Linked DNA regions of Homo sapiens: all the other regions are linked to region 4. The links come from fine-mapping of genetic effects on gene expression. A gene starts in region 4. Each other region holds a variant in brackets. All regions are shown on one strand. Distances are from middle to middle. Region 1 overlaps FARP1 (FERM, ARH/RhoGEF and pleckstrin domain protein 1). Region 2 overlaps FARP1 (FERM, ARH/RhoGEF and pleckstrin domain protein 1). Region 3 has its middle 71 kb from the start of STK24-AS1. Region 4 holds the start of STK24 (serine/threonine kinase 24).

Region 1 (8,103 bases), 150 kb before region 4:
ATCGAGCGGGGCTGCCATGGGCATAGGCTGTAAGCCATTTCCATCAGCATGCATCACCTGATTTGACTCTCTACACCAAGCTTGTCCAACCCACCGCCGAGCAGCAGCTTACAGCCCAGGACGGCTTTGAATGTGGCCCAACACAAATTCATAAACTTTCTTAAAACATTATGAGATTTTCTTTTTGGTGATTTTGGGGTTTTTTTTTTTTCTTTGCTCATCAGCTATCGTTAGTGTTAGTGTATTTCATGTGTGACCCAAGACAATTCTTCTTCTTCCAATGTGGTCCACGGAAGCCAAAAGATTGGACACCCCGGTCTAATCTAAGGCACATCAGGAAGATGGCTGTTCGGCAAACCCTTCTCCAACCTTTCTAGATAATTTTATTTCAAAGCATGAATGAAAAGCCAATCACTTTAGCGAAAGCATTTTTAGTAGGTTTTTTTGTTTCAAAAGTTTTGCATTATACCCAAAACAAGTGTTTTCTGTGAATGGATGATTCAAAACTTCAAAAAAAAAAAAGATGTGGACAAACACTGTCTGACTGAACATTTCATTTTCAGTCAGTTGTTTTGGTTTCTTCTAATAACCATGACAAAAATGTTGGATTCAGAGCTGTGTAGGTATTTCAGTAAATTCTATGACTTTAAATCAGTGTACGAGGCAAATATAGTTTTTTTTTTTTGTTTGGTTGGTTTTGTTGTTGTTGTTGTTTTTGAGATGGAGTTTTGCTCTTGTTGCCCAGGCTGGAGTGCAATGGCGCGATCTCGGCTCACTGCAGCCTCCGCCTCCCAGGTTCAAGCCATTCTCCTGCCTCAGCTTCCCAAGTAGCTGGGACTACAGGTGCGCACCACCACACCCAGCTAATTTTTGTGTTTTTAGTAGATATGGGGTTTATGTTGGCCAGGCTGATCTCAAACTCCTGACCTCGGGTGATCTACCCACCTCAGCCTCCCAAAGTGCTGGGATTATAGGCATGAGCCATCACCCCTGGTCGCAAATATGTTTTTAATCATCCAGCAATATCTACAATCAATGACATAAAAGTGAAAGTATATCCAAAGAAGTCAATAAATATTAAATTAATACTCTACCACATTTAAAAAGTCTGCCCCATCTCTTATATCTGAAATCTTCCTTTTTTTGTTTTCATTTGAATCCATTAATAATTCCTTTAACATAAAATGTTTTAATTCACACAGCGTCTCTTTTGAATATACCTGTACTCACATTTTAAAGCAATCTTCCTGAATCTTAACTGCCCAGAGCCTGTATGACAACCTTAAAAACTAATAACTGCCCAGAGAAGCTAGCAACCCCTTAAAGAAGGTGCTCATACTGCCCCCATTTCAATCCATCCATCCACCTGTCCATCCACCCAGTGCTAACTGAGCACCTACTATACACAAGACACTCATAGAATGAAATTACCATTAGGGTTTGTCTTAATTCCCATAATCCTAGCTAAGTGGGTTAGCATTTAGTTTTTTCCCATTAAAATGATGTATCTCAGCCGGGTGTGGTGGCTCATGCCTCTGATCCTAGCAATTTGGGAGGCTAAGGTGGGAGGATTGCTTTGAGCCCAGAAGTTTGAGAGCAGCCTAGACAACATAGCAAGACTTGTCTCTATGAAAAATAAAAAAACATTAGCTAAGAGTGATGGTAAGTGCCTGTAGTTCCAGCTACTCAGGGGGCTGAGGGGAGAGGATCACTTGAGCCCAGCAGGTTGATGCTGCAGTGAGCCATGATCGCGCCACTGCACTCAAGCCTGGGCAACAGAGCAAGACCCTGTCTCAAAAATAAATAATAAATAAGCAAAGATGAATCTCGTGAGGGAGAGACAAGAGGAGGATGGTCGGTGAGTAGCACAGAAAAGACAGGATCAATTGCCACTCAAGGGATTTCCTGTCAATCTCTCTTAACAAAGACCACGGTAACATTGACTGGATCCTGAGGTATTGTTTTGTTTTTTCACTGTGTTCAAACAGCAACCCTTTGCAATTTGAGGCAATACCAGAGAGAGGCCGTGGAAGTGATCAGGGTTGCAGAATGCTATGCAAAAAAAGAAAAGCAAGAATTACCTAAGATGTTCCATAGCCACAGTATTTTGAATGGCATGAGCTATGGCTGAGGCACAACAGATAGAAGGATAACAGACATCTTTTCCACTTTCCATGGGAGTTTCTGAAGTTAACGTATTTTATCTTTCAAAGCAATTTTAGCTTTACAGAAAACTTGAGGAGAAAGTACAGAGTTCTCGTATTCTTCCGTCCACCCCTAAACACACAGTTTCCCCTGCTATTAGCGTTTTGCATTGGCGTGGTGCTCGTGTGGAAACTGATGAACCAATACTGACAAGGTTGACCATTAGGGCCCCCTCTTGGTGGTGTACATTCTCTGGGTGTTGACAAATATATAATGACAGGGATCCACAGAACAGTTTCCCTGCCCTAAAACTTCCCTGGGCTCCACCTATTCATCCCCCTTAGATGCCCCCCAAATCCCTGGCAACCACTGACCTTTTCCCATCTCCATAGTTTTATCTTTCCAGATGTCACATAGCTGGGATCAGACAGTATGTAGTCACTGCAGACCGGCTTCGTTTGCTTTTCAAAAACGTCCTTTTTCCTCTCTCATGTAACAGGACGCTGTTTCTGTTGTTCTCTCCCATCTTTTCCCTCGTTTCACATGCTCTGTACTTTTTCCAAGGCCGTTCTGGTTTCTCAGCTTTTCTCCCTGTGTTCTTCAATCTGAGATCACAGCTCCCCAGGGAGGCGCCCTCTTCAAGGAGGCTTGGACTCTGGTGTGGGCCTTTGGGGACAGCAGCAGAGACCTGCCAGGTTCATCTCCACCCGCGGGGACAGTCCCCAGTGTGGTGCTGTTCAGCAAGTGTCCTTCGTGCCTTCTCCAGGTTGTGTGCCAACTCCCACCACTGCTTTTCCTCAGAGGCTGACATCCCACCCTCCCCTACCCTAACCCAGCGCAGAAGACCACCTAAAAATACACCTGATATCCGCTCCTGGCGTTCTTTCTCCTCGGTCTGGGGAGCTGGCATTTCTGCATTCAGCCAGCTTCCCCTGCTGTGCTGGCATCTCAGGAGTGTGCTGATGCCATGAGCGTTTATAGCATGGAGCTCTGTGCAAGCAAAATAAAAATAGACGGAGAGGTTGCTGAGAGTCACTGGCAGCCTTTTTGAGAAGTTAGTTGGGGTTTTTTTTAATTGCTGTTTTTATTGTTTTAAAGAATTTCTATAAAGCATGGAGGGGCACAGCAGAAGTTTCCAGAAATGTGAGAAGCCCAGGCCAGCACTGTTGTCCAAATGCTTAGAGTGTTCTCGAGCCTGCAGTGTCTTTCCCGCTTCGCTCCCACCCCCGACCCGTGCACTCACCTGCTGTCATCAGTCTCAGCCTGATTGGCTCTTCCCAGACTCTGCACACAGGAGTGAGGTCACACAACCAAGGGAGGGTAGTCCAGGGTCTTTAACCACCTCCACAGAGTCAGAGACACCCAAATCAGGATCTCCAGCCCACGCTGTGAATGTCCACTTGCACACATCCATCCAGACGCACAAAAACGCTTGGAAATCAATGCAAAGAAAGGGCCTTTCATCCTGACCTTCACCTGCTTGGCAAGTGGGGACCTTCATTCCTTCCTGTATCGCCTGTCTCTCCAAGCTTCTACCACCTGTACCTCTTTCTGACACTTCTACCACTTTGCTTCTCCTGGCTCTCTGTTTTCTTCCTGCTAGGCGACCAGGCCAGCTTCCCAATGAGTCACCTCCCACCAACCCAGCCTTCCAACCCACTACTTATATGATGGCTGGAGTCACTGTTCATACAACACAAAACTGACAGCGCAAAGCCCTCCTGGTTTCTCTATGGTTTGGAGAATGCAGTCCAAACTCTAAACCTAGTGAAGAAAGCCTCTGCTCTAGTCCTAGGCTGTCTCTCCAGACCCTGCTCCCAACCCTTCACCTTCCACCCTGCCTTCCGGCCACCGTCAACTCATGTGTCCTCCCAAGACCTCTGCCTTGGCCTGGGTGTGTGCATTGCTTCGTTGGCTCTTTGGTATATACAGGGAAGACCTTTGGACACCCACTGTGTATGCCAGGCCCCCAAGGATGTGACGACATGCCAGGATGTTACAAC[A/G]TGATGATGCCCTCTCAAAATCAAATAGGGGACCACACGTGTGATAGCATCGCACAGAGCGACACACACATGCACGCACATGCACGCACACACATGCAAGAGCGTGTATAACTGGTGCAATCTGAATAAGCTCTGTGGGCTGTACCAATGTCAATTTCCTGGTGTTGATATTGTACTCTAGTTTTGCAGGATGTCACCATTGAGGGAGGCTGGGTGAGGGGTGCACAATCCCTCCCTGTATGTTTCTTTGCAACTTCCTATGAATGTCTATTTCAAAACAGAAAGTCATGAAATCAACCCAGCAGGGAGGCTGTGTGATAAGGGCGGTTGTGGAAAGACACAGCAGTGAGTGCGGGAGGATGCAGGAGTACAGAGCAGGGCAGGCCCCGGAGTAACCCCGAGGGATGGGGGGTCCTCAGCAGGGGTCACTGTGTGCAGAGTCTCTGGGTGCGAGAGTGTGCCGCATTTGGATGCAGGGCGGTCAGTGGGTGGCTCAGGGTGAGTCGCAAGCGTCAATGCCAGAGAGGTCAGAGGGATCCCGGCTTAAGGGGAGTCTGTTGAGTGGCATTGCAGAAAGTTCATTCAAGGGGCTCAACTCACAGTGAAGTGGAAGGGGCTGGAGACCACACAGCCAGAATGAGAACAGTGACCATGGGAAAGAAGACAAGGGCAGGTCCCACATTTTCTGGAGGACAAATTGATAGGACTTGGGGACGGGTTCATACAAGGAAAGAATGTGGAGTGTACCCCAGGTTTTAATGTCGTGAGTACCTGGCTGGTGGTGGTACCCATCCTGAAGTTAGAGAATAAATGCGGGGGCCCCAGCTGAGGCAGGAGGAAGTGGGCATGTGTCTGGACAGCTGTGTTTCCAGCTTTTTCCGGGGCGTGGGAGTGGAGAAGCCACTGAGGTTGGGCCATAGCCTGGATGAGAAATCTAGATCTGGTGCCGCATTTTCCTCTCTGACTTGGGCTACTCGCCTGTGCCAGATACTACCATAGGCTTTTCTACAAAAACAAGTCAATTACAAAACCTTTCATCATTTTGTGCCTTTTATATCTATAGACATGTATACAAATATACACCCACATACATGATAGAAGAATCTAGATTTCAGGCCGGGCGTGGTGCCTCATGCCTGTATTCCCAGCACTTTGGAAGGCCAAGGTGGGAGGATCACTTGAGGCCAGGAGTTTGAGACCACCAGCCTGGGCAACATAGTGAGACCCTGTCTCTAAAAATAAATAAATAATTTTTTTTTAAATTAGCTGGGTGTGGTGGCTCAAGCCTGCAGTCCCAGCTGCTCGAGGCTGAGGCAGGAGGATCCCTTGAGCCCAGGAGTTCGAGGCTGCAGTGAGCTGAGATTGCGCCACTGCACTCCAGCCTGGGCAATAGAGCGAGACCCTGTCACAAAAAATAAAAATTCAGATTTGGGAGTTACCAGCACATAGAGAGCAAGCCCACTCTGGGAGGTGATTATCAAGTGAGACTTGAAGAAAGCAAACTCGGTTTTTGTGTCCTGGGGTGTCCCCTGTCCTCTGCTCTCCCCCTATCTGCCTGGAAGTGTCCTTGCCTTGGGAGTCCTCCCTCCCACCCAGGTGAATTCATTCCTCCTTTAATGCTCTGTCATCCAAGCGCTTACTCTGTCCCCATCCCCACCATGACTCCAGGAGAGTCAGGGCGCTGTCTGACTCTCATCCATCTCCCCAGACCTAGCAGAGGAGGGGCTCACATAGCTGCTTAGCTACTGTCTGAGCAGACGGGGCGAGGGAAGCAGAACTGTGGTTTTAAAACGATGTAATGCTCACTGACGGCCCCTGGGCTGTTTGTTATCTGAAGACATTTAGAAGAAAACCACAGCCCTCCTTAAGGAGCTCCTGTTGATATATTTGTCCCCAGTTTTTCCAGGCTCAATTTTAAAGGAACATTTATACCTCTGATGTTATATACATAGCTTATATATTTTATGATCCATGTGTATTTTAAACTGCTCAGTACCTTAATAGGCCTTTTTATTTCATCCTGAGAACTTAAGTGAAATAACAAAAAGAGTGAACTATGAACAATGTGAAATTTAAGGAAATTAAACAAATCGTGAAATAGAGAGTGCAGGAGCGCTTCATTTCCCCAAGTGAAACTGGGCAGAACACAGGTGCATCCCATTCAGCTGAACAGGACCCTCCTCCTCTGTTGCCTCCCAAGCACCTGGCGGCTCACCTGTGGAAGCACAGCGAGGCCTTGGAGGCCCTGGAGAATGGAATCAAGAGCTCCCGGCGGCTGGAGAACTTCTGCAGAGACTTTGAGCTGCAGAAGGTGTGTTACCTACCGCTCAACACCTTCCTCCTGCGGCCACTGCACCGGCTCATGCACTACAAGCAGGTCCTGGAGCGGCTGTGCAAACACCACCCGCCGAGCCACGCCGACTTCAGGGACTGCCGAGGTGAGTGCTGGGAGCCTGCGCCACCTGGTGCCCATGCCACAGTTCAGGCCGGGTGCTCCCAGACTGAGCCCAGCCAGGGAGGGGCTCCCCGGGGAGAGAGGTCAGCTGATGCTGGGTCCCAGGTTTTCATCAGGGTGGGCGCCGGTTTTTATTCCTGCTCTGGTGTTTGGTTACATCTTGATTTTTTTTTTTTTTTTTTGAGACTGAGTCTCACTCTGTCGCCCAGGCTGGAGTGCAATGGTGCGATCTCGGCTCACTGCAACCTCCACCTCCCGGGTTCAAGCGATTCTCCTGCCTCAGCCTCTGGAGCAGCTAGGATTACAGGCGCCCGCCACCACGCCCGGCTAATTTTTGTATTTTTAGTAGAGACGGGGTTTCACCGTGTTGGTCAGGCTGGTCTCGAACTCCTGACCTTGTGATCCGCCCGCCTTGGCCTCCCAAAGTGCTGGGATTACAGGCGTGAGCCACGGTGCCCGGCCACATCTTGATCTTTCCGTAAAGAAGGTGCTGATGATCGTCAGGACCCCTTTCTTCCTTTGCCTCTTGCATGCATTTTCTCCTTTGGTTCCTGGGTGGTTTTGTGCAAAGATCCCTAGAGAAGCTCCGCTTACAGTTAGCCCCCACCCAGGAAGCTTGCTTCTACCCACGTGACGGAAACTCATCCCTCTACCATGGCCACAGAACATAGCTTGTAAGAAATCCTGTTGCTCATTGCTACCGGTCATTTGTAATGTGCCCATCAGCATAATGAGCATCTCTCCTGTATTAACTCTTCCCAAGCCTCAGGCACAGGTGAGTTCATCTTACATATGGGGACTACGGAGACTAGAGAGGTTAAGGAACCTGCCCAGAGTCACACAGCTTGGAGGGAAATGATTTGGAACCTAAATCTAGAACCCATGGTCACAACCGTCCTGCCCTTCTATCTCATGGACAGTCCTACCCGCTCGTACTTGCTCAGCCCCAGGCCAGGTGCTGTGTACCTGATACTGTACCAACGTTCACACCATTACTCCTTTAAGGACCCCTTTAGATCAATTGCATTATCCCATTTTACAGAGCGTGACGCTGAGACTCAGGGGAAGGGACTTGCTGGGTCACTCAGAGGTCAGAGCCGCATTCCAGACCTGCTTTTCCCACGGGGCCACGCGTGCTCTTCTGAACGGAAGTCGTTGTGTCTGGTGTCACAGTTGGTCTGTGGGTGTCTGCCCTCCCTGGCCTAGCATGCGGAGTTGGCCCTGCGTAGGTGGCTCCCGCACAGGTGGCCCGAATCCACACACCCACTAGGAGGGCAAGGCCCTTATTCCTTGCCTGAAATGTCAGAAACACCTCCCAACTCTTTAGCCAAAACTGTCATCTTTTTTAAAAATCCATCTTCTTACACCTTGGCTTAAAACCTGGGTGACGGCTGACTGCCTCAGGCTAAAATCGGAAGTCTTCATGACCTGGCCTGGCCAGCTCTCACACCCCAGCTGCGCAGCGAGCACCTGTACTGGGCGTGTGAGGGAGAAGGAACA
Region 2 (8,103 bases), 130 kb before region 4:
CGGGAATCTGGTGCATGGGAGGGAGGAGAGTCTGCACGATGGCAAGCAGGTGCCAGCTCCTCCCCATCATGAGGGTCACGGCAGACACTCCTGTGACAAAAGACAGGCTAACAAGGGAAAAGCATGACCAGTTTATTTCATCGTCATTTTACATGACATGGGAGCCTTCAGAATGAAGACCCAGAGGTCCGGCGAAAACCGTCTGTTTTTATGCTTCGCTTCCGTGAAGAACAGGGCGCCGTGGGGAGCTGATGGGACAGGCTGAGAGCTAGTGCCAGGAGGGCGAAAGGAGCCCCGCAGGGCCCCTCCGGGTTTTCTGGGCCTTTCTGAGCAGCGTTCCTTGCTCCGGGGTATGGTGCGGGACCCTTTCTACAGTGGGGGTCTTAGAACCTCTTCTCACACCAGGTGGGCCAGGGAGTAAGTTTATAGCCAGCTCTTACACAGAACGGTGGAGAAAGGTTAGGGTGACCGTTTTTGGTTTTGTGGCTGGCTTTGGGGGAAGGAGGTTCTGGTTTCAATGACCCGCCTTAAGGAAGGGGGAGTCCAGTTTCCGTGGCTCGCCTGGGGAGGAAAGGGGCGAGGCAGGAGGTGGGCAGGGAAGCCTGGCTTCTGAACCTTTCACTTCAGGGTATTGTTTTCTGAGCCCACCACCTGAAAGTTGGCTTTGAAGATGCATCTCTCCCAGATCTTGAATCCTTCCAGACCCTTCCAAATGCCCATTCCCTAAGCATTCTTCAGTCCAGGCCCATAGCTGTGTTTCAGAACACTTCAAGCCCGTGAAGGTGTGAAACAGGAAAGCTTTCTTCATCTCTCACTGGCAGTGGAAGCTGCCCTGAGCTGGGGCGAGGCCATTCATCATTGTGATTGTGTTTTATGTGAATGCTCACGTTTCACCGCAGAATCTCTGCCCCCGCGCCCTCTGCGGGGCTGCTGCAGTCGAGGCAGGACTCCCTTCCAAACGCAGAAAGGGCCAGTTCCCACACAGGCCTGGTCCAAAGAGTGTCACATAAGAGACTCAGGCCAGGACAGGAGTTTGCTGGCTCTTGGAACCAACAGCAGCAGGAATGAGCCAGCAGTGCTTCATGGAGGGTCTCGAGAGAGTCTCGGAATTTATTCTCGGGAAACGACCTTCCCCGTTGCTCAGACCTGCCTTTATTGAGTTTCCTGCTACAAGCCGCTTGTTTCTAAGCCCAGGCCTGCTTCTGAAGACATCCTCAAGGGGACACATCCGAGGTGCAGGCCCTGGCTCCCCCACGGGCACAGCCTTTCTTCCCAGCTGTCCCCACATACGAGGCTCTGTCCCATGGGGTTCCCCTGAGTGTGCAGGTGTGAATATTCCCTCCCCGGGCCTCCTGACAGCCCAGGTGTGAAGAGCACTAAACATTCTTCCCCAGCTTCACACCTCCACCAGGCCTGTGCGCAAAGCTTGCGGGTCTGAGACTTCTCCCAGGGGATGGGGATTATGATAGCAGGAAAGGAGACCCCCGAAGCGGAGGAGCAGGGAAGAACCCGTGATAGGCTCATGGGAAACGAGGCCTCATCAGATCTCACCTGTGGGCGTGTGTCTGAAACGAAGCCAGTCGATGTGTGGCGCCGCCACTGGGGAGGAACCGTCTTGGCCTTGCTTCGTCCTGACCTCAGCAATGTGTGAATTACGACTCTCAAGGCTGGGGTTTGTCATAGGCCTCAAAGCTTTTTACATACCTGGAGGCACCCAGGCCATTCAACGAGGCAGCAAATACCCAAGTGGGGTCCAGGTGGCCCAGAGCCACCTGCAGCCCAGCTTTTTTGGATAACAAATCTACACGGTCGCAGCCTTCCGTGTGCATGATCAGGTCAAGGCACTGAGTCAGGGGCACGCTGGCCCCCAGCCAGATCTAGCCCCGGCCTGGTGGCTTACAGCCTGCGAACCAAGAATGGGTTTCACTTTTTTTTAATGGCTGCTACATAATGTCTTCAGTTTTGCCCCTTGGCCTGCAAAGCCTGAAATATCTGCCGTCTGCCTTTTGAGGAAAAGTTTGCTGACCCTAGTAGAGAGCAGGAGAGTGAGCCACTGGCCAGTGGGGTTTGAAGGTGGCAGTGACCACCTAGTACAGTCAGGGACCTGGGCTGCTCTATCACTTTGCAGATGTCCCTCCTTGCCAGAAAGCCCCCTCCCAAGGCACGTGGCATCAATCTTGTGTCGGTGGCAGGCAGCCCTCATGTGCCAGACGCCAAATGCTCGCTGACTCGCAGATGAGCCATCCCCAGGGCCTCCTCCCTGCATGACAGGACAAAGCAGCTCCATCTCCTCCTGACTCAACAGCCTCCTCTCCCCAGTCCCGTGCCCAGCCTCTCCCAGTTCCCACTCCCGTCTGACTCGTGTAGGCACACTTGAGGAAGGGGCGTATCTGGGGACCGTGTGGCCTCACTGGCCTCTGCTAAAAGTTGTGGGCAAGCCGGCAGGCCTGGGGGCTCCCACTAGAGGTGGGGTCAGATGTTGGGATGGCCAGAGGGCTGCCCAGCCTGTGGGCACTAGAGCCAGTGAAGGGCCAGAGGCAAAGCAATGCAAGTTGTCTTTTAAGGCTGGAGTGGCGAGACGGGACAGCAGGGAAGTTGTTCAGCAGACAGAGCGCAGACAGGACTGGGAGGAGGGAAGGGACGGGGTGCAGACAGGACCGGAAGGAGGGAAGGGACAGTGAGGCCAGGGAGTGGCGGGCACGGGGGTTATATTTGTTCCCCGTGGCGTCACTCGGCACCAACCTCAGACTGGGTGAGGCCACAGAAACATCTCCCACAGTGCGGGAAGCCGGAAGTCCAAAATCAAGCTGCTGGCAGGTGGGTTCCTTTGGGAGGCCTTGAGGGAAAATGTCCCCACCTGACAGCATCTGGTGGCTGCGGCAGTCTTCTTCTCGGGGGGTCCCCGACTCCACCCATGTTGCAGGGCTCCGGTCTGCCGTGTCACCAGCTGTCCTCCCTGTATCTGCACTCTAATATCCTCTTCTAAGGACACGGCTCGTGCTGGGCTTAGGGCTCGTCCTAGTGACCTTACCTTGACTCGATCGCATCTGCAGAGACCCTGTGTCCATGTGAGGTCACCATTGTAGGCACGGAGGGTTTGGACTTGTTGGGGGTGCAATTCAACCCACAGCAGGGTCTGAGGGAA[T/TG]GGGATCCAAGAAGGGAGAGGAGCGGTGGCCCCAATGAAGGGCCACGAGGAGACAGGGCAGGCTGGTCTGGTTCTGAACAAGGATGTTGACCCTCTCGTGAAGGCAGTGAATGGAGACAGGTCTGGGAGCCACCAGCATGGCCTCGGCCTCCTGAGTGCAGGGCAGGAGACTCATGGCGCGCAGGGCCCGTAACACGCTGGAGGCCAGGATGGACCCGACACAGGGGAGCGGGAGGCTCGGCCCGGCCGTGGGGAGCGAGGAAGGGCCGCTGGATGTGCCTATTGATAAAGAGGTTTCCAGAGGCTATTGGAATGGCCAGGCAGAAGCTAGAGAGCGCTAAGGAAGCTGCTTTGGAAACAAATGGGCCCAGACTGTGATGGGTGACATGTATGAACCCCACTGTGGGCTGGCTGCTGTGTGAAAATTATGTGAGTCAGTATGAAAATACCTAGGAAAGGGGAGTGTGCCACCCTCCTTGCTCCATGTTGCGTGACCCAAGATGCCGCATGGGCATCAGCCCAGCCCTGGCCACCACCAGGACCTTCTGGGAACCTGGAGCCTTGCATTTTCTTGTTCCTTTCTGCCACTGGGGGAGGAGGATGGATGGCTGGAGCTGCCTGCCTGGCCTGGAATGCCCTTTCTCCCCGTCTGCGGGGTCCCCCACATCCTGCAGCCCCTCACGGACCTACTGTCAGTGTCCATGTCTCCCACTGGACCCTCCCTGAGCAACTGGAGGGCAGGGACATCAGACCATTTGATCCCAGCTCCCAGCACAGAAGCTTAGTGCCAGGGGCACCCAGAGAGATGGAATGAGGCAGACTCGGAGGTCTGTATTTTTTATTGTGGTAAAATAGCTATACCACAATATTGGCCAACTTAACGATTTTTACGGGAACAATTCAGTGGCATTAAGTGCCTTTACAAGGTGGTGCAACTGCTTTGAGTCTCTGCTGGTGATGTCACTTTGGCAAAGGGACGAAATGAGCCACCAGTGCGTCAGGCCTGCTCAGAGTTGTTTGGAGGTAGCATGGACACAGGTGCCTGTCCCTGCCCCCTAGCTGGGCTGCAGCGCATCCTAACAATGCTCCAGGGGCTGGGCCGGCCCTGAGCCTGGAGGTGGGCAGGGCTGCAACTGCCTCCTGGGCCACTAGAGGGCATGTGGGAGCCACTCACATGCACCCCAGGCCCCACTTCCTGGGTAGGGTGCCTGGCCCCTCAAAACGAGTGCTGCTCTGAGCTTGTTGGGATGGATCTTTCCCTCCTTCAGCTTCCGCCTGCTGGCAATGCATGGGGTCCTGCGCCCCCATTTCTGCCTCGGTGTCACAGGGCACACCCCTCTCCCCTCAAGGTGGCTCTTCTCCTCAGGACACCACTCCCGTTGGATTTAGGGCCCACCCTACCCCAGTGTGATCTCGTCTTCACTAGTTACCCTGCAACGAGCCTATTTCCAAATAAGCCTGTGTTCTAAGGTACTGGTAGTCAGGACCTCAACGTGTCTTTTGGGGGGACACAGGGACCCCAAGATGCCCCACAGCAAGTGACAAGGGGAAGTGATGAGATCAGGGTCCCAGGACCTGCCAAGTCTCCCCACACACGGGGGAGCGGGGGTGGGGCCCACATCCTTCAGTCACGGACATGCCCCAGCCCAGGGCCCTGGTGCAGGGAGAGCTGCTCTCTGTGCCCTCCTGGGGCAGGTGCCCGCTGTGCTTCTCACAGGCCTCCTTGCCTTTCAGAATCAGTTGTCTGGAAACCTGCTGAGGAAATTCAAAAACAGCAACGGGTGGCAGAAGCTGTGGGTGGTGTTCACAAACTTCTGCCTGTTCTTCTACAAATCACACCAGGTAAGTGTCTCGCACAGGGCAGGTGGCCCTGGGACCTTGGGGGTGGCAGCATGAGGTGAGGGGGCCGCCCTCCTCTGGAATGACTCAGGCCTCTTGGGCTCCAGGTGTCACGGGGATGACAGGGATGCTGGCGGGGGGCCCTGTCCACCCGAGGCCCTCAACTCTAGGGAAGACTGACATTATCATCCACTGAAGGACAACTTCTGCCCTAGGAAGGGCCACCTGTCTTCTGCCTGGACAAGGGACGGGGGTTGGCTTTATCTACAGCTCAGTCCTGGCGGGACTTGCCACCCGGGCCATCACGTACAGGCAAACACTGGCTGCCATGGTCCCTTCCAGGCCCACGCCCGAGGAGGGAGCTGCCTGGGCTCCCAAGTCCCTGTCTGATGCGGGGCAGCAGCCAGGCCCAGCAGCAGAAGCTGACCCCGAAAAGCCACTTTGCTTTGTTTCCCCTTTCCAGGACAATCATCCCCTTGCCAGCCTGCCTCTGCTCGGCTACTCGCTCACCATCCCCTCTGAGTCCGAGAACATCCAGAAAGACTACGTGTTCAAGCTGCACTTCAAGTCCCACGTCTACTACTTCAGGGCGGAAAGCGAGTACACGTTCGAAAGGTAGACACCCCCTTCCCACGCACAGGGCCCTGCAGAAGAGGACCCCCTCTTCCAAACATCAGGATTTCTCCCAAGTCAGCGAGTGAGATGGCCCCACCCTTCCCTGCCAACTAAGCGTTTAGACCTGGGGTCCCACTGCCCGACACCAGCAGGCGATTCTGTTCTCATGGCAGAAAGTGGGGTCCCAACTTCCCTGCGCCCTTACCCTGCACGGTGTTGGCTGAGGCCCTAGACATCTTGCTTGGAGATCTCTGACATAACGTGTCCGGGATGATGAAGCTAAGCCCCAGTGAGACTGCCTACATGGTGTAATGGCAGGGACTGCAGACTTCATTTAGCCAAGAAAGAAATGCAACAGTCAGGCCTAAGACTGTTCCTGCAATTCATATTTTGAATAGAGATCCTGGGCCTCTGCAAATTGCATCCCCAAGCCGACTACTTGTGCAGTTTGCCCTGCTGAGCCCTCCTCGCCCCGGGAGGCAGAAGGGGAGGGGTCCTCAGCAATATGCTGAGCACCTCCTAAACAACATCACCTGAAAAAGGAACCTAGAGGAGAGCCATTCTCAAATCTGATCCTGGACTGAGCTCGAGAGCTGGGTTGAGAGCTGGGTTGATCAAAGTTGGGATTTTGCTATTATTGTGACAAAGGGTCCAGCCTTGCAGTCCAGATCCTGAAAGGCCTGGGACAAGGCCAGGTAATTTGGGGAGTCCGTCCTGCATTGTGCAGGATGTTCAGCGGCATCCCTGGCCACCCACTAGATGCCCGCAGCAACCCCTCAGTTGGGACATCTAAAAATGTCTCCAGACTTTACCAAATGGGACAGCATTGCACCCATTTGAGAAGCACCGGTAGAGAGCAAATACACAAATATATAAAAAGGGAGATTTGGGCGTGGTGGTGCAAGCCTGTAGTCCCATCTCCTGGGAGGCCAAGGCTGGAGGATCGATTGAGCCCAGGAGGTAGCTACAGTGGGCGATAACTGCACCACTGAACTCCAGTATGAGTGACAGAGCCAGACCCTGTCTCAAAAAAAAAAGAAAAAGAAAAAAGGAAGGGAGAGCTTCCACTAAGCAGGATGGGACACGTCCCGCCATTCTCTGCCATGTCCATGAAAATAGGAGGTAGCGTTCTCCCCAGCAACCAGAGGCCACCTCGCTCCTAACTGCTCCAATGGAGCGGGCAGTGTCACTGCAGCAAGGTACTTCCAGCTCCACACTGAGTGAGTGCCCAGGCCAGTGGGTCTCCACTGTACCTCAGGAACGCCTGGGTGCTGGCTGTTCCCTTGCTCTTCTGCTGAAGTGGCAGATTACCAACCAGGCGGCCTGACTTCACCTTGTGTTTCTGTAAGCGATGCCCACCAAAGTGTCAGGAGTCCGTCCAAACAAAAGGTTGACTAACTGGCGTTCCCGTGTTGCAGGTGGATGGAAGTGATCCGCAGTGCCACCAGCTCTGCCTCGCGACCCCACGTGTTGAGTCACAAAGAGTCTCTTGTGTATTGATGGCCGGACACACTCGTTTCCGCAGTGGCTGCTTTCCTGGAAGACGTTTCCTTTCTTCTGTATTAATGAAGCCTGGTAAAATTAACACCTGTCTGAAAATCAAAAACATGGCTTCCCAGCAGCTCTCCTGTCTCCACAGCCGCGTTTTTTAACCCCGACCTCTCAGCGTCTGAATGAACAGCGCTCCCACCTCCAGTCCTGGCATCCGCTGGGGGCGCTGTTCTTTAGCTAGTGCCAGTATTAAAACATTGTCATTACGAGAGTGCCAAATGACATCTTCCCTCCACCCTGCCCCTGAAAAACAGTACACACACATCCGTTCAACACAAGACAGGGCAAGTGTTTTTCTTCCTAAAAAAAGTTCTTTCTTTTATTATTTTCACCTATTGGCTGCTGCATTTTACGAAGTGGACTTCCCGGTGTTTGTTTGTTTGTTTGCAATACACTCAGTGCAGCCTTAAGCAAATGAGATCATTTTCAGATTTCATTTTTTTTTTCAGTCTTTCTACTTTTGTAATAATAGGAAGTTAGTAGGACTCACTTCTCTGATTAATAAGCAATTTGCAGCACACAGCGTTCCACTGCGGGGTTTCACGCTCACCTGAAAACACCTGTTCCCAACCTACTTCTTGGTGCAAGTTGACCAAATCGTTTTAAGTGGTAACTCTTTCCAACCGTAGCAGGGTTGTTTTCTGTTAAGCAAAGCCGAGATCCAGTGCAATACCTGGACTGTCACCGTCCTGTGAGTGGTGTACACAATGGGAAGATAATAAGCCGTGGTGTTTTGCTGTCTGTCTGTGTCACAAGCATGAAAACCCGTGTGTCATTGATCAGCACCATTTGTGGTATGTTCCGTGATGAGCGTTTAGTGAGCCTGCTGGCTGCAGAGCACTATGAAATCATGGTACGTAGTCCCCGGCACCTGTCGTTATTCCTATATCCTCCTGCAACTGTGGTTTGAAACTGCGCATTCTCTAGTAGTATATATCGTGCCTGTCTTCAAA
Region 3 (8,103 bases), 71 kb after region 4:
AACTCTAGGGGGTGGAGGTTGCAGTGAGCTGAGATCACACCACTGCACTCAAGCCTGGAGGACAGAGCAAGACCCTGTCTTAAAAAAAAAAAAATCCCTTTTCTTCCTCTATTGTCCAATTGTTTTGCTAAAATATGACTTGGTGCTGGCTGTTCTGGGTCAGTTTCCCTAGGTATGACAGGTAGCGTGATCTTTTAGTAGGACGTTCCGGTTGTCTTTCTTTCAGGAGGTTTTTCTTTCTTAGATCACTAACTGTGCATCTTGGGCTAATTACTTAATCAGAAATGGAAGCCTCCATTTCTGTCTGAAAAAGGGAATAATGAGAGACCCTCTTTCACAAGAATGTTGTGAAAATTAAACATCATCATATGCGCAAAACCCTTGACTCTGTGTCTTGCAAATAGTAAGTGAATATTAAATATTAGCCAGTATGACAGAGAACCTTAATACCAAAAAAGATTCTTTCAGAACACCATTGATCTTCTTAGCATTAGAAGAATCAATTACACTTAAATCCACTGCCTTGTAGTAATACCCTTTCCTTGGATAATCACCAGTATAACACATACTAAAAATTTTGCTTTTTCAATTTTTCCTTTATAGTTTAAGGCATTTCACCTACATTACATTCATTGGTTTTACATAAGAATTGACAAGTAGGCAGTAGTTTTTAAATAAGCATTTAAAATGTCCGAATATAAAATTAATAGATGTTCATTGCAGAAACTTTGGAAACTGGAAAATAATATTTTTAAAGAAAAAACTTACCTTAACACCCAAAAAATACACTCACAAAATGGTAGGTTTACCCTCAAATTTTCTTCCTGTGCATTTAAAAATCAAAGTTGTGATTCTCTTTTACATACAATCTTTTGTCCTGGTTCTTAAACCCAATATAATGCAAATAATAACTTGTTAGCTTGAGCCACCAATCTCAGCACAGTGTCTTATCCAACAAAAACATACATGACCTTAAAAAGCCAGGAGAAGTCTGGGTGCGGTGGCTCATGCCTGTAATCCCAACATTTTGGGAGGCCAAGGCGGGGGGATCACGAGGTCAGGAGTTTGAGACCAGCCTGGCCAACATGGTGAAATCCTGTCTCTACTAAAAATACAGAAAAATTAGCCGGGTGTGGTAGTAACATGCCAGTAATCCCAGCTACTCGGGAGGCTGAGGCAGGAGAATTGCTTGAACCCAGGAGGCAGAGGTTGCAATGAGCTGAGATCACACCATTGCACTCCAGCCTGGGCAACAGAGCAAGACTTGGTCTCAGAAAAAAAAAAAAAAAAAAAAAGGCCAGGAGAAATCATGTAAAACTTTACCCAATATCTCTTATGAAGGTGGTGTTGGGGGAGATTGAAGCAGATGTAACAAGGAGAATTCCTAGAAAATTAGAGCAATGTAAAATGGACTTGGGGATGTTTTGCTGTGTTTTCGTGGTTAACACCCCCTTCAGAGTCCCCAGAGATGGTTACGGGACAATGACCCGTGTCTTGCTTGCCTTGCCTTAGCCCTCTGTTCTAGTTGTCCCTGACATCCATTCTCCCTTTATTTGCTATAACTGGGATTCTGGGTTTGGCATATGGTAGCTCTACTGACTATATTTCCAAGACCCTTTTGCATGAATGCATCATCGTGACCAAATTCTAGCCAACAGGGTGTGCCTAGAACTGACGCGTGTAACTTCCAGGCTGTGGTCCTGCAGGGAAGGGGTGTTCTTTTTTCTTCCCCTTTTCTCCTCCTTTAGAATGTGGGGACTGGAGCAGTCATCTTGCGCTATGAGATGGAGGCTGTGCTGAGAATGGTAAGTCACAGAAGGAAAAGAAACTGGGTCTCTGATGATGTTAGGATTCCCAGACAACCTGCCTGGATGTCTCTGCAAGATAATTAAACTTCCACCTTGTTAAATAGAAGTTTCCCTGTCAGAGCAACCAAACCTACATTCTAACTAATACACCTTCACATGTGAGTTTACACTCAGTTCTCATTGGCTTTGCACTTGCTCAGGTCTTTGATCCCCTGGTCTGGTATCTTTGCGAATGCCTCATCACACAGGTGGGTGATCCATTCCTGCCACCACCCTTCCCCGCCCAGGCCTGGGCATGGAGACCCTTCCCTTCTATCTTAGTGCCCCTCTAGCTCCATCAGGCAGAAGAGCCCATGAAGCATCTTGTTGAAAGTAATTAAGGCCAGGCGCGGTGGCTCACGCCTGTAATCCTGGCACTTTAGGAGGCCAGGTGGCCCAGGAGTTCAAGACCAGCCTGGACAACATGGTGAAACTGTGTCTCTAAAAAAAAAATTAAAAATTATCCAAGTGTGGTGGCGCATGCCTATAGTCCCAGTTACTTGGGAGGCTGAGGTGGGAGGATCACTTGAGCCCAGGAGGTGGAGGTTGTAGTGAGCCATGATCGAGTCACTGCACTCCAGCCTGGGTGACAGAGTGAGACTCTGTCTCAAAACAAACAAACAAACAAACAAACAAACAAACAAAAAACCCAAGTGATTAATAAACCTTAAAGAAACAATGTTTTGATAGCTGAAAATATTCCATTCTAGAATTTTTAAATCAAACCCTATTATTGGTTATTTAGGTTTGTTTCCAAATATTTGCCATTACAAAAAAAATAACAAGGCATAATGGGAGGAAAATTGGCTGAGAGAGGCAGATGGGAGTTTGACCTCTGCTCCGACCACTCACCATCTGGGTGATTTGGGACAAGGCATTTTTCCTCCCTGGCCTTCAGTTTTCTCCTTTGTAAAATAAACACTATAATACTCATCTCTCTGATTTGTTATGGAGATTAGAGACCATTACATAACTCAGCTAGCACAGTAGCAATCATATAGGAGGCTCAATACATGGTAATTACCAGCAGAGGAGTAGTTACGTGCTTTTGTACATAATACTATTTCTAGGTACCAGAGTTTTTTATTGATAAAACTCCTGAAGCAGGAGATTACTGGTTCAAACAATATAACTTGTTCAGATTCTTAATACACACTTGATAGGAATTATTTCTGACATTTTTTCAGATGAAGAAACCAAGGATCGGAGAAGTTAAGCCATTCATCTTGGGTTTTAGGGCTCATTAATAGTAGAGATCAGATTTAACCCATATTTTCTAACTTTTAATCTAGGGCAGTTTCTACTGTATGTCACACACCCAGAACCAGAACCCTTACAGTACAGGAAACTGAATTAAAACCCTTTGTGAAAATCAGATAGGCGTGATGGCTCACATCTGTAATCCCAGTATTTTGGGGGGCTGAAATGGAAAGATCGCTTGAGGCTAGGAGTTTGAGACCAGCCTGGGCAACATCTTGTCTCTACAAATAATAATTAAAATGTGTGTGTGTGTGTGTGTGTGTGTGTGTGTGTGTATTAGCTGGGTACAATAGCTCACACCTATAGTCCTAGCTACTGAGGCAAGAGGATCACTTGAGGTTGCAGTGAGCTATAATCTGTCTTCCACTTCAGCTTGGGCAAGAAAGTGAGACCTTGTCTCTCATAAACAAACAAACAATAAAAAACATTTTGTGAAAATCAACTGTGTTTGTATCAGCTTCTTTCTAATACTGTTGTTACATTCTGACCTCTGCTTCCTTCAGTGAACTTTATGGGTGTCTAATACCGTTGCTACATTCTGATCTCTGCTTCCTTCAGTGAACTTTATGGGTGTTCAGTAAGGAAGGGTGTGGAGAGAAGCCACCAGCTTCAGGGAGTCAGGAGGGCTGGGATTTCTTCCCAGTCTTGTTATCTACTATTCATATTCTCTTGGCAGAAAAGTCAACTTATCTGGGCCACAGGTAACTTATCTGTAAAGTGAGAGAACTCTGGGTGATACCTAAGGTCACTTCTTGTTTAAAGTTCAATCATTGAGCAGAGTGAGGTAGACAATTCTGAGGAATCCAGACTGAAACTGACTTCCTCCATGCCCTATAGTAAATATTAGGTCACAGCGGAATGAATTGTTGCAAAAGGTATGTACATTTGTTCGTAGATTTTCATTCAATTTTTTTTTTTTTTTTGGGGACAAGGTCTCACTCTTTTGCTCAGGCTGGAGTGCAGAAGCACAATTACAGCTCACTGCAGCCTCAACCTCCTGGGCTCAAGCCATCCTTCCATCTCAGCCTCCTGAGTAGCTGGGACTATGCGTGTGCACTACCACAGTTGGTTGATTTTTTTGATGTTTTGTAGAGACAAGGTCTCAGTATGTGGCCCAGGTTGGTCTTGAACCCTGGAGCTCAAGCAATCCTCCTGCCTCAGCCTCCCAAAGTGCTGGGATTATAGGTGTGAGTCACC[G/A]TGCCTGGCTCAAGATATCTTTCTACATCAGAAGGACTCCTCATGTATGCATCATCCCATAAATGTTCAGGAGAAGTTGTGTTGAAAATTGAAGATGGGTCTACTCAAGAGTTTTATGTGTAAGAAAAGCATGTATTCGTATGGTAAAGGGCTGGAGGGAAATGAAGAAAGGAGAACCACTTGATTTGGAGAGATAATATAACAGTAGAATTTGTCATGTTTTTGTTAAAGGGATAGAGTCTTGCTCTGTCACCCAGGCTGGAGTGCAGTGGCACCATCATAGCTCACTGCAGCCTCAAACTCCTGGGCTGAAGGGATTCTCCTGCCTCAGCCTCCCAGGAAGCTGGGAATATAGGAGCACACCACCACACTTGGCTAATTTGTTTTATTTTTTGTAGAGACAGGGTCTTGCTGTGTTTCCCAGGCTGGTCTCAAACTCCTGGCCTCAAGCAGTCCTTCCATCTCAGACCCCTAAAGGGCTGTAATCACACGTGTGAGCCATCATACCTAGCCCAGTTTGTTTTTTAAATTTTCCTTAATGTTGTTTATGCAGTAATAACATCATCATTGACAACAACAATCATACTTCTTCTTCTTTTTTTTTCTTCGAGATGGAGTTTCGTTTTGTCGCCAGGCTGGAGTGCAGTGGCGCAATCTCAGCTCATTGCAACTTCCGCCTCCCGGATTCAAGCGATTCTCCTGTCTCAGCCTCCTGAGTAGCTGGGATTACAGGTGAGCATCACCATGCCCAGCTAATTTTTGTATTTTTAGTAGAGACAGGGTTTCACCATGTTGGCCAGGCTGGTCTTGAACTCCTGACCTCGTGATCTGCCTGCCTCGGCCTCCCAAAGTGCTGGGATTATAGGCATGAGCCACCGCGCCCAGCCAACAATCACACTTCTTAAGATGCTGGTGGTGAACTTGGACTTTGAGAACTTTGCTTTGAGGACTTTAAAAGAGGAGTCTTCTGTTTGACTTGGCATGGGTAAACATAATAGATGCAAGTAGCCTCGTGGTAGGGGACAGGAGGGTATCTCTGAAATTGTCCAGAATCTACAAATGGGCAGATTTGTGCACATAGCATATTTAATTATTTGTTGCACAAACAAGTGTTTGAGATGCAGCGGCAGGGGATTGCCTAAGCCTCTGTTACAGCATTTACCTGCTGGCTCCAACCCTCCCCTCGCTCCAGTCTTACTTTCTGCACCCACTTGAAAGCAGAGGCCCTGTGTCCTCTTCTTATTGCTCTGAAAGTGGAGGGCAGCTTGGTATCCGTAGTTTTCATCCATGGGTGGTTTTGCCCCGCAGAAGGGATATTTATCAATGTCTGAAGACATTTTTCCTTGACATAAACGAAGCGTCTAGTGTCAAGGCCAGGGGTGCTACTAAACAGCCTCCAATGCACAGGGTAGCCCACATAGCCAAGAATTATGCAGCCCCAAGTGTCAATAGTGCCAAGGTTGAGAAACCATACTTCAGAGATAAGAGAAGCAAAGACAGGGTGGAGGCTTCTACCCTGGTCCCCTGGGGCAGGCCATTGTTTGCAAAGGGCACAGAGAGTGAGCAGGGGCAGGGGCTGGTCCTGCAGCTCTGCCCCAGTGATGTCATCGAGCCCTGGAACTCGGTGCCCTTCCTGGAAGGGCTTCGCCTAGATGGAGACTGACCTGACAGGAATCGGCTCCACCTGTGGACGTACGGAGTTGGACTTTGTCCCAAAACTGTGCCTGTGACATACATTCCTACCTTCACAAGGCTCCTTCATGCCAATCGCCCTGTCTATAAAGCCTGTTTCTCACTGCAGCAAGCTTCCTGCAAAGCCAGTTTCTCAAGCTTGCCATCCCGAGGGGTGTGGTGGCATAGCTCGGATGCTTCCGAGCCTCCTCTTCCTTGATTACATGAATTCCAAGACATGCAAGGATGTTCTAGACAAGGAGGCCAAGCACTTGGTGAAGGGGAAACTGACAGCAGCAAGGACTGAGAAGAGAAGCTTTGAGAAATGATCATAAAATAGTCAGGTTCTGATGAGGAAGTGCAACTAGGATTGGCACGAACTCCATGCAAAGGATGATGATGGTGCAATGTTTTTGTGAGTTGAGTTCTGAGAGTTGGCTTGGAGCATTGAGAAGGGAAAGGTGAAGAGAAAGGAATTGGTCAGAAACACAGAAATCAGAAAGGAAAGGGGTTCACAAGCAGGATAAACAGTATCTGTCTCTCGATAGTGGAGAATGGGAACTTATTAGCTGACCATGGCTTGGTAAAAATATTTCTTCCAACAGCTGGCTTCTTCTATTTTAATTTCATATTCACAGCACAACTCCAATCCGAATGTATTTTTTTTTCCAAGGTTATTGACCTGCTAAAATGAAGATGTGACTGTTTTCACTGTAAATGTGTGAGTGAGCATGTTGGTTTTGTTGAGTCTTGCCCATGGGAAAGGACTTGAATAAGTCTGAATGGTGGGATCTCTAACGCTGCGAATTCTGGAAACTGAGCTGGAGGCCTTTGGCAACCTCCATAGCAACAAGATGAAGACCCACATTGCTTCTGGAAGAGTCTTTCAGAAACCAGGTATTAAAACTGGTTTTCAGCAGTCATGGGTCTCTGTGCACAGATTTGCATACCAGAGCGGTGCTCCTGAAATATATAGTCTTGTCCAATCCTTCATGGTCGACATCGCTGATGGAGAGAGGAGATAAGGTTTCAGAAACACCTGATTGTTTGTCTCTCCCTCTCCCCTAGAAGGATTTGGTCCCCCCCATTAGTCCAGCTGAGGACATAATCATATTAGTTAAGCAAGACAGTAGGGTACCTGGTTAGGAAAAAGGGAGGGCCTTTTAAGTCATAGGAATGGGTCAGGTAGATGGGCCCCAGCAGATCAGTAGACATAAAAGTTTTTTCCAGGGTAAAACAGATTACAAGAGATTCTCAAAAGCAGACTCTCTGGAGCGATTGTCAAGGCTCATGTGGTAAGCAGGGTGGGGCAGACCCCTGTGAAACAAAGGAGGCTGTGTCTCCTCAACTCCCGTGCCCTTGGCACCCGCCTCACTCAAGTCCCTTCCCTGGTGGTTTGGGCCTTCTTCTTCCAGCTGCTCCAACCACTGGCTTCTGGAATGTTTTCAATCTTCAGTCTCCCGCTCCAGACTTTGACTTTGCTCGGTGGACTGTACCTGCTCAGATCTTGGTCCCATTTTCCACCCCGGAGCCCCTACTTGGCTTAATCACACTCAGACTTGCCTGGAGAGCTTAAACAGATTCAATGTAAAGGTTCCAATGGAGGGAAATGACTATGCGTCCCCTTGATGCAATGTTGTATTTCTTCTGCCAGATCCCATACCCTTCATCTGAGATCAACAAAACCAGAGGAAGAGTTTGAGCTGGGTCAGCTAGGAAAATACCACCTGCACTGTGACATTATTAAGATGTACGGAAGCTCTGTAAAGGCCAAATTACAGTGTGGAGCCCATGTGGCAACAAGGAAAGATGCTTATGGTGAAATGGTTCAGTGAAATAGGACTAGAATGTATATGATGCCGAGATTACAGCCCTGTACAAGAAGATTTCTCAAAGGCAATGCTCTCAGAAGTATCTAGGTCTCCAGTCATAGGGCTGCTGGATCAGAGCTTTTGGGGCTAGAGTCCAGGAATCTGAACTTTAAATGAGTTTTCCAGGTGGTTCTTCTGCACTCTATAGAATGAGGTCAGCTATGTAAAGAACTGTGTGCTCAAGGCATCATATTGCAGCAAAGAATTGTGGCCAGATTCAGTGGGACTACTGATGGATTTTTCTTAACCCACAATTT
Region 4 (8,103 bases):
AAAAGTTGAAAAGTGACTGATAAAATTTTGTAACAGAAATGTGCAAACCAAAATCTCATTTTTAAATCACATTTCTGCAAACTCAAAGCCGATTGGTGTTCCTGCCTCCATCTGAAGCTTTTCTTTTAATCTCAATTGAGTGAAACAACAAATGCTCAATGAAAGACGGAGTACTTATAGCCACAGATCAGCCTGATTTCTTTATGTTTATTCGTCACTATATTCATTCAGTTTCTGATGTCTATTTTTTTCCCCTACTGAAATATAAAACTGGGGTTTAAGAGAAAAAAAGCAAAGGCTTCAGCAACTTTCATTAAACATTTACTTTAAATGGTAACCTCATTCAGATCTACCACTTTCAACCCCTCCCCTAGGACCTGGCACATGAAAGTTCAATAAGGGTTGCTGATTGAATAAATTAAAAAATCAGCCTCCTATTTCTAATTTCTTTAGCCAATCTAACTAGCAATGAGATAAACTTTAATGTTTGCAAAAGTAACCATAAAACAGTAACACTGCATGATGAGTGGGAGTAGGAGGAGTAGTAGTTTCCAATCACAAATTTGCCACATAATATATGATCTCACCTTGGTCAGTTAAGTCTTCCTTGGTCTCCACATCTACAAAATGGTATAATATCATCTACATCTCAAACGGTACCGGTAAGAATCAAGAGGCATAAAAATGATTTGCAAAACATTGAAAAATGGTGTTTATACTAACATGGTTGTTATTTTTCAAGCATCCTTGCCTAGGCCACCTGAATTCACTCTGCTTTATTTTTTTATTTTATTTTTTTTTTTGAGACGGAGTCTGCCTCTGTCGCCCAGGCTGGGGTGCAACGGCACAATCTCAGCTCAACGCAACCTCCGCCTCCCGGGTTCAAGTGATTCTCCTGCCTCAGCCTCCCGAGTAGCTGGGATTACAGGCGTGTGCCACCACGCCCAGCTAATTTTTTGGATTTTTAGTAGAAACAGGGTTTCACCATGTTAGCCAGGATGGTCTCGATCTCCTGACCTCATGATCCGCCCACTTCGGCCTCTCAAACTGCTGAGATTACAGACTCTGCTGTCTTTCTAAGCCAACTCCTTATAAGCCCTGGTCAGGAGACAAGAAAAAGGGAGGGCTATGAGGCCTATCAGAGCAAGCCATAGAAGAGATACGGACTTCTCTCCTCCCATTTAGCAGACAACAGTCGAAAGCAGGTGTGTTTTTAATTGAATCTTCAGCAACAACTCTTAGGGAAGCCTCCCAGGGCAGTAGCAACTGCTAATTTGAAGTAGAAAATAAATGTGCTGTTGTTTTTCTTTTGTGGGGTGGGGGAGGAGAAAAGAATGTTCTTCCCCAAATGATACACTGTTACCATACAGTCTGTAGATGTACTTAGGTACAGGAATGACTGGCAGAAGCCAACTTACCTACCTCTAAAACTGTAAAACTGTAACAGCTGAAAATCTGATCATCTTTTCCACTGAGAAACACTTAAGATCTTTCATACTGAGAAAACAAAATAAAAACAGTTCCCATGTAACACAACCTAACAGATACATAATAGTTGAGAGGCAAAGTTATTAAGGAAATGTATCTTCTTTTCCCAAGGTTTAAGAATTCTGACCCACTCAAAAAAAAAAGTGAGGATAAAAATGAAAAGGTGAGATACTAGATATCACCTGGTAACCATCTGATACTGACTTCACGGCACCAGCCAAAGGGGCTTTAGTACCTTTTCAAACTGATTCGCTATCCACAAAGGCCAATTAACCTAGTAAGTGAGGCATTTGTGCTAGATTCCAACCTGATGAACACGGTATAAATATCAACCTAAAGGAAATATTGATAAAACTTTTTTTTTAAATCATTACAAGAGTCCTTTCTTGCTCGACTAGTAAGAAATTACTTTTTTCACCCAGTTCACTCTGACCTACACACCTCTAAATTCATACCAAAGCGGCTTTAGAAAATACCAAGAAACCACATCTGATTGTTACCCAGCAGTCAGCAGAAGTTTAGGTTTTGAATGCATGCTAAATTCAACGCTCCTTAAATGAGAGTCGACAAAAGAATATTCTTCAAGCATCTTCCCAGTCACTCTTAAGATAATAACTTAACTGTTGCTGCTTAAATGTATATTTATTTACTGCTTAAACATATATACACACATATATATACTGCTTATATATACACACACACACACACACACACATATACACACACACACACTTGGACTAAAATTCTAGCTGCCATTAAAGTGGTAACTTTGAGTTCCTATTTTTCCAGAATTCAAACCTGAACAGTGAAATCCAGTTTTCTTTTTACGGTTTCAAAAAAAGAAGGGAGAGGGATGATCTCACTGGAAGAGGCGAGCAGACCCCAGAGGCAGTCCCAGGTCTGGGCTCTGTGCTTCTCAGCCCTCAAGACACAGGGAAGGAGCCTGTTGGTACCTGTAAATCAACCAGTAATCTACTTGGATGCTTTTGGTTTTCTTCAAACACTTAACGTTCACTCAGCTAAACTGGCAGAGCAAACTTTCATGACATATCCTAACTGCATCCTAAGATTTCCATCCTAAGCATTTTGCCACCATTTCTGCGCCTACAAAGTTTACAAGAGTTAGCCAAGGACGGTAGCTTTGTTTTTCAAAGGGCTAAAAGCAACGACAACGAAAACAACAACAACAAAAAACCTTTAACTTATACATGTAAATTTGAAATTCAACTCCTCTCCCACTCCCCAAAAAGTCACTGGTAGGCCAAGGTGTCACCAAGTACCGAAAGAGAGGTTTACTGGGCGAAGAATTCCTGTAAATGCAACCAAGTCTCAAAGTGAAAGTCCAGGGTCCCGGGGCCGGGCCCGGGACCCTGGTGCGCGGCTGTCCGAGGGATTCCTCCTTCCAGAAGGTTTGCAACTCGCACTTTCCCCCGGTCCGCAGGTGCACGGGGGCTCCGGGCAAAGCCACTGCAAGTGGAACTCGCGGTTACCTTCCTCCACTCCACCCTGCCTACTCCGCTCGGGCCCGGACGAGTCCAGGCGCGCTCCCCGTCCCCGCCCTGCCCAGGTCTCCCGCCCGCCTGCCCGGGGGTGGGGGACGAGCCTGGGGGACGCGTCCTGGGGCCCTCCGCCAACCCGGCCACCACGCAGGGCCCCGGGACCCGGCGGGGGCCTCCAAGGGCATCACTCCACCTCACTTCTCCCGGGGACAGGGCCACCCAGGGCCTGCAGCTCCGGAAGAGTGTTGGGGCGAGGGGAGCGCGGAGGACTAGGCGCCCGCACCCCCACATCCGGACCCAGGCCGCGGTTCCTACGGCTCCTGCACGCACACGCCGGAGACCTCGGCCGCCGGAGCCGGCAGGGACGCCCAGGGACTCGGACTCGGACCCCCGGCCGAGCCGGGCGCGCGGGGAGCCAGGCTCCGGCGCGACCCCGGCCGGCTGAGCGTAGGGGGACGCCGTGTGGATACCGCCAAGTTGCTGCTTCCGCCCCGGTCGCGCATCCCGGCCCCGCGGCCCGCGCCCGCCTACCTGCATGCCGGGCAGGCCCGACTGCACCGGGGAGTGAGCCATGGCGCTCAGGACGGCCACTTCCTGGGACGGGACGGCCGGGCCGCGACGATCCGCGCGGGGCGGCGAGGCCCGCGGGCCGCGCGCAGCCCTCGGGCGGCGGGGCCGGCCGGAGCCCGAGGCCACCCCAGCCCTGGCGGGTCCCGGCCGGGCGGCGGGGGCTCAGCGGCGGGTGGCGGGCCGCGTCTCCATGCACGGCGCCAGGGAGGAGCTGCTGGGGGCGCAGGGCCTCGCGCGCACTGCCGCCGCCGCCGCTGCTGCCGCTACTGCTGGGCTGGAGCCGGGCGGCCTGGGCCCGCGCGCGCTGGCCGCTGGAGCCGGAGTGGGCGCGCACAGCCCGCCGAGCCCGCGAGCGCCGAGCGCGTCCCGCCCCGGCCCGGCCCCCGCGCCCGCCCCCACGGCCCGGCCGGGGACCCCGCCCCGCGCTTCCGGGAGGGGGAGGGGAGAGGCCGGTGGCCGCGCGGGAGCCCTAGGCCGCAGCCGCCGCCTGTCGGCCCGGCCCGGGTCCCAGCTGCTCCTGCGGCGCTCCCACGCCCCCGCGGGCGGGCGGCGGGGCCGGGAGGGGGCCTCGGCTGGGGCGGGCGCCGGGAGGGACCGAGTCGGGGCCGGAGGCTGGCCGCGTGCCCACCGGGCCGGCGCCGGGGCGAGCCTGGGCCGCGGCCCCCTCTTCCCGCCAGCCAGCCCACCCCGCCCCGGCGGCCTCTGGGAAAACGCGTCCCGGGCGAGCCCCTGAGGGCAGGATCGGAGTCGGGGGCACCTGGGGAAGGAGAGCGCCCCGTGGGGCCTCGGCCGGTGGCCTGTGCCAAAAGGCCGGGCAGAGCTGCTTCGGTGTCTGGGTGAAGTTTCCAGCCAACCCAAGAAGGAAACCGAAAGGGAAGAGGCCGAGAGAGAGGTTAATTCCTAGTGCTTTGGTTACCGAAAACAGCCCGGCTGGGACTGCTGGGCTGGGAACTTAGCTAAGCAGTGCGGAGGCTGAACCCCACCATCTCTGGGATCCGCAGCAAATCAGAAGCCCCCACCCACGATAAGGGGAAAATGGGGCGCAGAGGGCAGGGAGGAAGGGAAGAGAATGGAAGGAAAGCGCGTCTGGACTTTGAACTGCAGCCCTCTCCCTCTTTCCCTTGCCTCGGAAGCTCCAGGCCCACTCAGCACCAGTTCTGTCTCCTCTTTTCAGCCGCCTTCTCTCTAGCTACTGAGGGGAAAAGTCAGGATGAAGCGGGTCCCTCGGCCTCCAGAAGGTGTTTTATTACAGTCGCAAACAGGTAGAGCGGCAGCCACCCCAGTGATGACTCCCTGCTCCTTAGATTGTAGGGACGCTGGCACCTCACTCATGCTCCTAAGTGGCCATTTTGCGCCCTGGCTGGGCGAGTTAGGCAGACAAAATGAGCCCCCAAAAGTTTAAAGGCCTCCACCAAAGGAGTATTTCTTTTCTGAGGTGTCATTGTATTCCATCCACGAACTTCAGTTCCCCCGGGTGCTCTGGATCTGACATGGAGTAGGATGCTAACATCTAATCCCTTCTTTCCCTTTGGAAAGATGCATGTTTTTTCTCGGAGTCCTAGGGAATACCTTAGAATACTTTCATGGTTGTCATTGGTACACCCATCCCTTGAGGAGCCCTGCCACCCGTAAGTAGGACTGCAAGGAAATACAAAATTAAGAGAAGTATGAACCCTGATACCCAGGAACTTAAAATCAGGTGTATAAATTTTGTACACCTAAAAAATATGGTACCTAAAGAGGCGAACAGCAAAACAAGCAAGAATGTGAATCTTTAAAATGTTTCTATTCTTCAGCGCAGCCCAGGAATTCTACCTAAAGTAACATATCCTAAGGCAACAACCAAGAAGTGTGGAAGAATGCATGTAAGAAGACACAGTGATGTTTAGAATCCTGGGGAAACGGAACAGCCAAAAAGTCTCACAGAGGTTAAGTAAATAATAGCATTTTCATACGAGTACTATGTAGTCATTTAAAATTATGTCTTTCAGTACCTAGTAATGGGGAAAATGTATTCATTATATATTATTAAAGAAAATACAGGGTACAAAACACTGTATATAGACTGATCTCAAATGACTATATATATATTAATATATATGGCCTACAGACACACAGTCATGTATTGCTTAACAATGGGTATACATTCTGAGAAATGTGTTCTTAGTTGATTTTGTCACGTGAGCATCATAGAGTGTACTTCCAGAAACCTAGATGGCATAGCCTACTACACACCTAGGCTATATGGTATGACGTATTGCACCTGGACCACAAACCTGAACAGCATGTGACTGAACTCAATACTGGAGGCAACTATAACACAATGGTAAATATTTGTGGATCTAAACATGTCTAAGCATAGAAAAGGGACAGTAAAAATATTCTTCTAGGGTCAGCAGAGCCAGGGCAATAACCTGGCACCAAGATAAAGAGCAAGAAACTAGATGAATGGATGGAAATGTCTGGATGCTGATCTGAGACATTACCATGGTAAATGCTCAGAAATCACTTTGCAGTGGGCTAATTGCCAGCAAATAAGTCACAGCAGATGGGGGACAAAGGCCCATAGTACCCTGGGTATAAAAAAATAACCGGAATCCTAGTTTGTGTCCTGAGGCTAGTGAGGCTCAAAACAGGGAGATTCCGGCAGGATGTAACTTCTCTGGACACAGTGACTTGCATCCATTAGCTGGTCTGTTGCCCCGAACCCTGTTTATCTTCTCTCCACACTGACCATTGTTTCATCCTTTGACAATGTTCATACTGTTGAGCACCATTCTTATCGAAAGAAGGGAAGGAAGCAACATGGGAGTTACTGGTTCTCCTTGGCCCTATGCAGGTAGTACCGAGTATTCCCCATGGCAGAAGTAGGTCTCCACCTTATTTGTTTTTGCACAACAGAGATGATGCACAGGGCCTGAGCCCGGGATCAGATCCGGTGCAATTGCCTATTATGTTCATTCATTCACACCTTTTTTGAATACCAACTATTAATACATGTCAGATACCCAGTTCAGTACTGGGCATATAAACATTAGATCCTCAGGTGCCTCTTAACCCATCCTAGGGACCTGGTCTCCCAGAATCCTAACTTTGGATGAATACAATACCATAATTGATTAAACTTAGAGTGGCAATAGCTATCATTTCCACCAAGGAAAGAAAAGGATCATCCTCTCACCCTCTTCCTCTTGTCACTTTCCCTCCACCCCCAATGTATGATTACAACAGGTTATACACTACCGTAAGTCCAGAAGGAGATTATGAGAGTCTCCATAGAGATGATGCATTTTATGGTCTCCATGGAGATACTAACCCATTGAGTTATTTACTTTATCCATTGAATTATTTTTCTTCCCTGGTCCTCTTTGTCTTTTGTGTTCACTTAAGGACATCAGTCTGGCAATGAATTATGATCTGAAATATATTCTGGACCACAAAGAATATTTCCATACCCCTATATGGAGCCCCTCCAAATATAAAGCCCCTATGTATTTGCTGCCCCTAAGCTAGTTTGTACGCACTCTCAGCAGAGCTCAGAGAGGAACAGAAAACAAGAATTCCACAATCAATCCCTTCACTTTTCTTTCTAAGTTGAAAAGATAAACACCCCCAAATGCTGCTTTATAAAGAACAGCTAGACAAGTAGAGCATTAGCAATTTAAATTCAGAGATTAAAGAAAGGGACTTACATGGTGAACTTTAAAGGGAGAAATAGGAGTAGCTTGGATAAGTAACTAACAGAAGGCTTAGACAAATTTCTACACATGTTCAGTAGGTGAAGACAAATTATCAAGATCAGTTTAAAGAAGAATGTCTAGTCATTGTTGGATGACACAATAGCAAGAAAAGGTATGCCAAAGCCCCAGAAAAATATCCCAGCTACATTGAGGAATGGTACCAATAAGGTTTCATTCTGTGCGTGGAGAGCTCAGAGGGCAGGCTCTTGCAGGGATATCACCCTAAGTAGGTTTTCAGTTGCACCCTGCCTTAGTTTGCTAGGGCTGCCGTAACAAAGAACCACCAACTGGATGGCCAAAACGACAGAAATTTATTTCCTCACCATTCTGGAGGCTGGAAGTCCAAGATGAAGGTGTCAGCAAGATTGGTTTCTTCCGAGGCCTCTCTCGGGCTTGTAGCGGCCAGCTTCTCCCTCTGTGTTCTCGTGGTCTTCACTGTGTGTTCCTGTGTCCTAATTTCCTGTTTTTATTATTTATTTATTTATTTATTTATTTATTTATTTATTTATTTTGAGATGGAGTCTCGCTCTGTTGCCCAGGTTGGAGTGCAGTGGTGAGATCTCGGCTCCCTGCAACCGCTGTCTCCCAGGTTCAAGCATTTTTCTTGCCTCAGCCTCCCTGGTAGCTGGGACTACAGGCGAGCGCCACCACACCCGGCTAATTTTTGTATTTTTAGTAGAGACGGGGTTTCACCATGTTGGCCAGGCTGGTCTCGAACTCCTGGCCTCAAGTGATCTGCCCACTTTGGCCTCCCAGAGTGTGTGAGGCACCACGCCTGGCCCTAATTCTTTGTTTTTAGAAAGATA

What was found. PIP is the estimated chance that this variant, and not a neighbour inherited with it, causes the effect.
Region 1: its variant is fine-mapped to the expression of STK24 in whole blood (TOPMed, PIP above 0.99).
Region 2: its variant is fine-mapped to the expression of STK24 in cerebellar hemisphere (GTEx, PIP 0.95).
Region 3: its variant is fine-mapped to the expression of STK24 in whole blood (TOPMed, PIP above 0.99).

The regions. Positions count from the first base shown.
Region 1 is chr13:98,424,695-98,432,797 of GRCh38, forward strand. It overlaps FARP1 (FERM, ARH/RhoGEF and pleckstrin domain protein 1), which reads left to right. Exons shown (of 27, transcript NM_005766.4): 18 at 6,349-6,586. Among named protein-coding and RNA genes, the nearest start is that of FARP1-AS1, 7.1 kb to the right of the region's middle. The variant A/G (reference allele first, on the strand shown) is at 4,149.
Region 2 is chr13:98,441,219-98,449,321 of GRCh38, forward strand. It overlaps FARP1 (FERM, ARH/RhoGEF and pleckstrin domain protein 1), which reads left to right. Exons shown (of 27, transcript NM_005766.4): 25 at 4,880-4,987; 26 at 5,448-5,599; 27 at 7,018-8,103. The coding sequence ends at 7,099. It overlaps STK24 (serine/threonine kinase 24), which reads right to left. Exons shown (of 11, transcript NM_001032296.4): 11 at 3,967-8,103. Among named protein-coding and RNA genes, the nearest start is that of FARP1-AS1, 9.4 kb to the left of the region's middle. RefSeq lists enhancers at 4,022-4,071, 4,842-4,891 and a silencer at 4,617-4,911. The variant T/TG (reference allele first, on the strand shown) is at 3,146.
Region 3 is chr13:98,644,567-98,652,669 of GRCh38, forward strand. No RefSeq gene overlaps it. Among named protein-coding and RNA genes, the nearest start is that of STK24-AS1, 71 kb to the left of the region's middle. The variant G/A (reference allele first, on the strand shown) is at 4,305.
Region 4 is chr13:98,573,227-98,581,329 of GRCh38, forward strand. STK24 (serine/threonine kinase 24) reads right to left here and starts at 3,881. Exons shown (of 11, transcript NM_001032296.4): 1 at 3,519-3,881. The coding sequence starts at 3,560. It overlaps STK24-AS1 (STK24 antisense RNA 1), which reads left to right and starts at 4,029. Exons shown (of 1, transcript NR_046542.1): 1 at 4,029-5,615. RefSeq lists silencers at 1,391-1,450, 2,915-3,784, 3,835-4,144, 4,165-4,314 and an enhancer at 4,405-4,594.